Linked DNA regions of Homo sapiens: region 2 is linked to region 1. Evidence: fine-mapped expression QTL. A gene starts in region 1. The other region holds a variant in brackets. All regions are shown on one strand. Distances are from middle to middle. Region 1 holds the start of CFAP210 (cilia and flagella associated protein 210). Region 2 overlaps CFAP210 (cilia and flagella associated protein 210).

Region 1 (4,400 bases):
TGGGCAACAGAGCGAGACTCCGTGTCAAAAAAAAAAAAATTTTTTTTTTTGTATTTTCTAATTATGTTGTTTTTCTAATGTCAGAAAAGCATCTTTTGGCAATAGGAGAACAAAGTTTTGCTTTCCACTTGGTATCGACTTGGTGTCGAAAATAAGAAATGTTATGTGAAAATAAGTTTTTGTCCAGTGGATAAAATCAGTGTTAAGCTGATTGAGATTTTCAGAGTCCATTTTTTCTTTGTACTTGTTTAATAATAGAGGAGTTCCACATTCTGTTGTCAATAGACATTTAGTGCTGTACTAGAAATTAAAATGTCTCCAAAAATTAAGAATATGAACAAAGATTTAGTTTTAAGAATGTGAATCTGTTTTGAAACCAATTTGTTAAAATTCCAAAAAGTTAACTGTTCTCTTCAAAAGCACAATCTATGTCTATTTGGTATGTCTGCAATGTTTCCATAGTGTAACAATATCCTGCATACTTTACACAATAATGAAAATTAAAAACTACACAGACATCCAAGAATTGGGAAATAATTAAGTAAGATATGCATGTGATAGCAAATAACAGAATATCCAGCCAGTAAAAGCCAAGATATTCAGTTCAAATTAAATAAGCAAGTCACAAAATAGTGTGTACAGTATAATCCTGTTTTTGTTTTAGAAAATGTTTACATGTGCAGTGGGATGGTTATGGTTGGTTCAACCGTAGTTCACACTTTTTCTACATCAATTTTGTAATAAAATTTTTTTCTTCTCAGAATAATTTAAACTCTGTTTCAGATCAGAGTGCATATGCTACCTTATTAAATTCACAACAAAGAAATAAAAGAGTGGTGGGTATAGGACAAATAACTCTAGATTGACTTGGTTGTGACAATCCACAGGTTGGAGCTGGAATCTCGAGTCTGAAGTCAAATTATATCTGACCACCATGTCAAATTGGCAAGTAACTGACATCAAATCATGAGATTCAATACTTTTGTAACCAATTTTGTTAAAATTCCAGAAAATTGTTGTTGGGAGACAATTTTCCCTGCGTCTCTGGTGGTTCTGCATGTCTTACTGACTGCCCTTTCCTCTAGACTATTGTCTCAAGGATGTTTGTACACTGGACAGCCTTGAGAAACATGCTTATTTGTCCAAATGATAAAGATCTGGGTTCCCTAAGCTCAGGGCTCCTTTCCTGTAATTCGACACACACTACATCTAGGTGACTTCTTGCCCACTTTGCATTATCCTGTGGGAACTGGGGCTTTAGGGAACTCAGGCGAAATTGCTGATTTACTGGCTACTGCTGGGAGTAATTCATTCCTGAAATGAATAGTCTTGTGTCTTCCATGAAACTGCCAGGCTAAGTTAGCCTGCAAACAGGGTAAAAATCTCTGTTCCTTCCCAGTTCTTGAAACTTTTTTTTTTTTTGAGACGGAGTCTCGCTCTGTCGCCCAGGCTGGAGTGCAGTGGCACGATGGTCGGCTCACTGCAAGCTCCGCCTCCCAGGTTCACGCCATTCTCCTGCCTCAGCCTCCAGAGTACCTGGAACTACAGGCGCCCGCCACCACGCCTGGCTAATTTTTTTGTATTTTTGCTAGAGACAGGGTTTCACCGTGTTAGCCAGGATGGTCTCGATCTCCTGACCTCGTGATCCGCCCGCCTCGGCCTCCCAAAGTGCTGGGATTACAGGCGTGAGCCACCGCGCCTGGCCCCCAGTTCTTGACACTTTTTAAGGTATAGTTCCAAAAACCTACCAGCGCTGTATGTGCACAAACTAATTTCTGTCTTCAAATATTTTCTTAATTATTCCATACTTACCAGCATTATTACGTGGAACATCTGATAGAAAACCTAAAGAAAAATAGCACGACTATGTGTTAGAACATTCGTTATTAAAAATCTTTTTGTTCTTTCATTTTGAGAGACTCCAATTTGGTGCATTATGTGTACACGTCAGAGCCAACTTGTTAGTAATGAAGTTATCTGTACATCAATGTGTTAGAAAAGCATCTTTTGAAACCAAACGCGCAGCTACTCCTAACAGATTTCTGTGGTCATGTATTTACCAAGAAATTTAAAATATCTCAAAGGTCCTAACGTAAATATTCTAAGCATATCATTACGTTTTAACATTCCTATTTTTAAAAAACTTGGCCCCATCTAGTCCTGACCATGCCTCAGAAACCAAAGGATTAAAAAAACAGCGTTTATGTCAGCGAATCCGCGGGTTTTTATAGTTAAGGGAGGGCTTTGCTCCTCACACTCCACCCGCGAGGAGATCTGCGGACGCACACACCACGCCTAGGCCTCGCGCGCTCACACACCTGCCGGCTCCACCCCGAGGGTAGGCATCGGACCCAATCGGGGGTCGTCCCCCATGGGGAGCGCGCAGGTGGGGATGGGAGTAGCAGGCAGGGCGGGGGCCCACGGGCTTCTCACTGACCCAGTCCCGCCGTCGGCAGCCGCCCCGGCGCCCGTGACGCTCCTGCGGGTTCAGTCCTTTGGCCTCGCCCCACGCCTGCCCTCTCGGCAGCCCCACTCACAAGCCCAGCTCGCAAGCGCAGGCGCCTCTCTTCTCTAGCCCGACCGCCAACTGCAGCACCTCCCTTGTTCCTCGGCTACGGCTGGCGTCACTTCCGGCGGCGTTGCCAAGCAACCGCGTGGTACGAGTAACAACTCCACCGGCTGGCGTCCGCGGCGCTTGGCGCCACAGTCACTTTTCCAGATCTAGGAGCATCATGGACACCTCGTCAGAGATGCTGGTACGGTTTGGACGGCGCTGTGGACGGGCGAAGGAAAGTACAGGTGAGCTAAACTGACCTATCCAGGGACAGGGATTGTTTCTGGACCCCCGGCATGGAGTGAGAGGCGAGGATGCCGAATGAGGGCTTCAGTTGCCTTTTGAAATGGACTCCACCAGGTCGAAAGCATCCTCAATAAGCATCTTTGGGCTCTGTGTGAAGTTAGGCCGTCTTGCCCTCAGGTGAATGGGTGAAGGAGGGAAACGGGGAGTGGAAGTGGGTGGGAGAATGTTTACAGAAATAGGGGTGGAGAAAAGATAGGAAATCAGAGACCCCCACCCCCAGCCCCAGCTGACCTAAAACTGCGCAGTTGCAGCTCTGAGAGTCTGGGTTTTGTTAAATTTCCCGCACGCTTAAAGTTTGTTATTCACTGATTGAATTGGAATATCTCTTGGAAATATAAGTCACCTCTTTAGAGGCTTGGCTCTTCTGCAAACCTGCTGATTGGTCTTTACTAAAAGTCTCTGAAGGAAATATCTCCATTTCCTCCTCTCTAAAGTAAATATAAGGTCTCTCTCTAAGTCAAATGCTTTTAGAGAGTTAAAAAAAAATCGTGTGACATAAAGTACTGTAATTCAGGTGACCTGTTATAACAATTTGATTTTGGAATAGAAATAGACTTCTAAAGAACTCTATCAATTCTAGCTACAACAGTTTCTTACGTCTGTAAATTAGCAATTAATGTTGTCATGGTGACAACTAGAACTTTGGCAATTTGAAGTATCTTCATGTCATTGCCCGAGCTTCTGTAGCAATAGTGCCCCCTGCACCAGATGCAGAGTGACAGCCAGTCATTCTTCACTAGTGGATATTTATGCAGTGGAGGTTTTATGAGGTTAGCAGCGGACTTTTGCCATGTAAAAGGAAAGAAACAGTACCAACATGGCCAGTTTTGGAAAAGCACAATTAGTCCCACACATTCACTTTCCTGCATATGCATTTCTGCACTACCTGGTTTAGATTTACCTAATAGTTGTTAAATAATGTTTTGTGGCAACTAGCTCAAAAGCTTCCACCTGAGCCTCACTGCTAAATTTTAATCTCCATTTTTAGGGGAAGGCTAAGTTGGAGAGAGGTTCAGAGATGTGTGCAGCTATTAGTAAAATAAATAATTTATAAAGATTTAGTGGGATGACATCAGCCAGAATGGTGAAATAGGATCTATGCCTGAAATCCTCTCCTCCATAAAATCAACAAGAACAGTGGCAAAAATCATCAATATCGACTTTTTCAGAACTCTGGAAATTAACCAAAGGCTTGCAACAATTTGTAGAGTGTTTACTAAAGAAAAACAGCTGGATTTTTGTAACAACAGCAAGGTTTTTGGCATTTTAACTTGCCATAGTCCTATACTTTTCTCCCAGCCCCGTGTCAGCCTAGATAACCACAGTAATCACAGTGAAAAATAGTGACTTAGCAACTGGTAGAGGGGACAAAACAGAATTTGACCCACTCCAAAGCCAGACAACTGTTATTATTCGACATGTTTGATAGTTCCTTGGAAAATCTCACTCATGAGGCTTATTGTTATTTAGTCTGACTTCAAACTCACCAAGTATGTTTGTCAAATGTTCAGTGGCAATTTTAAATATCACAGCTATCAGA
Region 2 (4,400 bases), 23 kb after region 1:
AATCTAGTGGCATGCAAAAAAAACATGTTTACTTCTCATGCATCTGGGGGTTGGCTGATCTAGGCTGGAATCAGCTGGGCAGCTTTTCTTCAAGCTGTAGGACTGGCTGGGTTTGCTTATTGTTGTGGAGAGTATTCTGATCCGCTCCATGTGTATACATTCTGAGGTTCAGGATGAAGCAGCCACATGGGGAAACTTTTCACATGGTATTGATAGAGATGCAAGAGAGCAAGCCTGAGCATGCAAAAACACAGCGTAACCCAAAGTCAATGGAGAAGGAAGTATACTTGGCCTTCCATCAGTCTAAAGCAACCACATGGCCAACCCCAACAACAATAATGGAACAGAGAAGTAGACTTCCATTAAATTGAGACAGGAAGGGGAAGGGAGTGAATCTTTTTTGAATAATAAATCTAAACTACCAAAGGAAGTTACTATTACTGTTTTGGTATATAGCCATGCAGAGTTTTTTTTTAATGAAGGAGGCATCAGCCTTATTGAAATAAAATTTGCATTCAGTAAAATTCACCTTTTAAAAAGTATAGCTGCATAACTACCACTCAAATCAAGATATGGAACATTTCCATCACTCCCAAAATTTCCCTCATGCCCCTTTGCTCTAAGTTCTATCTCCTGTTCCCAGCCTCTGGCAGTCATTGATCTGGCGACACAGACTTTTTTCCTGAACATATATACTCACATTTTATAAAATGAAATTTGAATTAGCAGCATTGTCTTATTACATGCTTTTTTCACATACCTGTATGTCACATATATAATTTATCAAAATCACATTATGTCTAAATGACACAGACATCAGTTCTCAGAATATATATATATTACCAAATTGTGTATTTTTCAATTCAGTCCTTAGTAACAAGGGAAGAAAAACCTTTGGATTTATTGTAATGTTTTTCTTTGGCAGTGTAGAGATCTAAAGGTTTGTGCAAGTTAGGGACAAAGCCATTGGCAGAGGAAGGCAAGTCTTTGACCAGTGAATCACTTGTGTTTGAGAAATCTCTTTTGTTATATTGCAGCTCAGAGGTGGCAGTCAGATTTCCAGCAAGCTACCTGGCAAGTGCTAACACCTTCACAGGCTGTCTATCCTCCTATAGCCTTTGTATCTGGGCTGTGTTTGGGCCACATCGTGTTTTTTCCTTGTAGTATGTGTCAGTAGGTTAGAGGTTCAAGCTGGTGTAGGATTTATTTTCGTTGTTTCTTTGGCATATCTTCAGTGCAGTCTCGGAAATGTTCATCAAGCTCTGACGTCAGCATAAATTCCTTTACTTACTTCTCATGGTGGGCTTTGTCCTTGTGCATGGTGACCAAGTGTTACCTATCCTCACTGTACTCTCAACTGTTCTATTTTCTTTTGAAATCTCTTGAAAATTCAGTTATGTGGGTAAGACCAGTGGTATAGAATTTCTCCTTTATATTGGTTGCATTTTGGGGAATTAGGAGAGGGAGGATGTTGTGATGGTTAATATTAGATGTCAACTTGATGGGATTGAAGGATGCCTAGATGGCTGGTAAAGTGTCGTTTCTGGGTGTGTCTGTGAGGGTGTCACCAGAGGAGACAGACATTTGAGTCAGTGGTCTGGGAGAAGAAGACCCACCCTCAAGGTGGGTGGGCACCATCCAGTCGGCTGCCGGCACAGCTAGAACAAAGCAGGTAGAAGAAGGTAGGCTACTCTTGCTTGCTGAGCCTTCTGGCTTCCTTATCTATTGGTGCCAGATGCTTCCTTCTGCTTTTCCTGCCCTTGGACATCAGATTCCAGGTTCTTCCGTCATTAGACTCTGGGACTTGCACCAGCAGCTTGCTGGGGGCTCTTGGGCCTTTGGCCACAGACTGAAGGCTGCACTGTGAGCTTCCCTGGTTTTGAGGCTTTTGGACTCCGACTGAACACTACGGGTTTCTGTCTTCCTCAGTTTGCAGACAGACTATTGTGGGACTTCGCCTTGTAATAGTGTGAGCTAATTCTCCCAAATAAACTCACACATACACACACACCCTCTTGGTTCTGTTTCTCTGGAAAACCCCTGACTAATAGAGATGTTCAACATGTGAACCTGGGTTGCCAATTTGTTTCCAAAGTCCTACAGCTTAAATTTAATAAGAAACATTCAAATCTGTAGTTGGAAACAACATAGGAAATTATAAATCTATTATTATATATTTGTTTAAGTGTATGAGTTTACAAACTTATCGCCAAGCTATATTCTGTTTAATGTTTATTCATGTATGGGTTTTATAGAATTCAGAATGCATGTTACTTTAAAATACTGTTACGAATAGGGATGAACCTATAAAAAACCTCTTTAAACCAATAGAAATGGAATAGTAGCACTGGTATTAACCTGAGTTGGGAAGAGGAGCATGTAGCAAAAAAGAGATGCAAAGGAGAGTTACTTTCCCTTTTCTTGAATAAGAGTTTATTCAGGAGCAAAATTTCAAAATAGGCTATTTATTCATTCATTAGGATATTCCTTCATTCATTCATACAAACATTTATTGAACAACCTCCTTTTGCCAGGCACTATTCTAGTCATTGAGAATACAAAGATGAATATGATGTAGTCTTCTTAAGAAGTTCA[C/T]GGCTGGGCGCGGTGGCTCACGCCTCCCAATCCCAGCATTTTGGTAGGCCGAGGTGGGTGGATCACTTGAGGTCAGGAGTTTGAGACCAGCTTGACCAACATGGTGAAACCCTGTCTCTACTAAAAAAATACAAAATTAGCCAAGCATGGTGGCACATGCCTGTAATCTTAGCTACTCAGGAGGCTGAGGCAAGAGAATTGCTTGAACCTGGGAGGCGAAGGTTGAAGTGAGCCAAGATCGTGCCATTGTACTCCAGCCTGGGCAACAAGAGCGACACTCCATCTCAAAAAGAAGTTCAGAATCTGGGAGTGGAGAGTACAGAAATGGAACAAATAATTAGAATGTAATGATAAATATTTTGGCAAATATGTGTAGAGGGTGTGTGGAAGCATGTAAAATGAGTATCTGACCCAGTCTAGAGAAGGCTTTGCAGAAGAAACTGGTTCCTGCGCCTAATTTCAAAGAATGAATAGTAATAAGCCATGCTAAAAGTGGGCTGTAGAGGTATTTTAAGCACAAGTGAAGGCCCAGAGTGGGATAGAATATGGTGGATTTGGAGAACTCCAAGTAGTCAAGATGGCTGTAGTATAAAAGACAAAGGGGGCATTGTGAAAGATAAGGTTGGAGAGATAGGCTAGGATCGGCTCATGGTGTCTTTTGTAGGTCATGTGCCTTAAGGCCTGCCAAAATTTGGAATGACTGTCTTCTTTGGGCAGAGACCGTATTTTAATTATTTTAATCACAAAGAAATGGAAATTGCAGATTACCAAGGGGCAAGTCTCTTTTTGCATGCCCTATTAATTGTATTACCAAGTGCTACCTTGCGGTGATTTAAAATATTTCCATACGTTCTTTGATACTCCTTCCTTCAGAGGATGGAGCCCAATTTATCTCCCTCTTAAGTGTGGCTATACATAGTAACTCATTTCCAAGAAATAGAATGTGTCAGAAATAATGGTGTGTGACATCTAAGCTTAGGATACTAAAGGCAATGTGGCTTCCTCCTTGCTGTCTCCCATGGATTGCTCATTGGGGAACCTAACTGCTGTGGTGTAAGGATACTCAAGCAGATCAATGGAGAGGTCCATGTGGCAAGGACCTGAGGTATCCTGACACCAAATATGTGACAGTGGATTCTCCAGGCTCATTTAAGCCCTTGGATGACTACTGCTTCAACTGACATCTTGACTACAACATTAGTTGAGAACCATCCAACTAAGTCACTCCCAGGTTTCTGACTCTCAGGAATGGTATGAGATAATAAGTGTTCATTGTTTTAAGCTATTAAGTTTTAGAGTAATTAGTTATTCAGCAATATAAAACTGAAACATATTGCACAGCTGCTGGCCCTGTGCCTGAAAGTGAAAATTTTCACATGCTTTCTAAACAATCTATCCTATGCTACTGTGGGGCTTTGACTAGTATAAGAGTCTTTGTGTGACTCATAGCCCAGTGGGTGTGACGGCGATAAGACAAATAAGATACCACAGTGACACCAAAATCCCAAAATAGAGGGATTTTGACCAGGAATCTTACACATAATTATTAAAAAGAAACTTAACACCGTAGCTATAGACACTGTATAGGTCTTCTTTCTTCTATATATAGGTAAGGCTTCCTCTAGGAACAGACACATAGACTTTGCTTAAGAAAAAACTCACTAATTACTGTCTGTTAATCCCATCAGCTTCACACACAAAAAAAGAAAAAATGGTCATAGGATAGTTTGCATCACTTTTTCCTAGATAAAGATTATTTAGGGAAAGAGTAGAAAGAGAGAAGAGGGCTTAAGTGATCTCATCCA

What was found. PIP is the estimated chance that this variant, and not a neighbour inherited with it, causes the effect.
Region 2: its variant is the best candidate, but not a certain one, in a credible set for the expression of CFAP210 in whole blood (INTERVAL, PIP 0.50).

Annotation. Positions count from the first base shown.
Region 1 is chr2:169,692,660-169,697,059 of GRCh38, reverse strand. CFAP210 (cilia and flagella associated protein 210) reads left to right here and starts at 2,655. Exons shown (of 9, transcript NM_001085447.2): 1 at 2,655-2,799. The coding sequence starts at 2,733. PHOSPHO2-KLHL23 (PHOSPHO2-KLHL23 readthrough) reads right to left here and starts at 2,591. Exons shown (of 5, transcript NR_144936.2): 1 at 2,438-2,591; 2 at 1,813-1,845. PHOSPHO2 (phosphatase, orphan 2) reads right to left here and starts at 2,591. Exons shown (of 4, transcript NM_001008489.4): 1 at 2,438-2,591; 2 at 1,813-1,845. RefSeq lists a silencer at 2,283-2,562 and an enhancer at 2,693-2,872.
Region 2 is chr2:169,669,967-169,674,366 of GRCh38, reverse strand. All of the region lies in intron 4 of CFAP210 (cilia and flagella associated protein 210), which reads left to right. Among named protein-coding and RNA genes, the nearest start is that of CFAP210, 22 kb to the left of the region's middle. The variant C/T (reference allele first, on the strand shown) is at 2,596.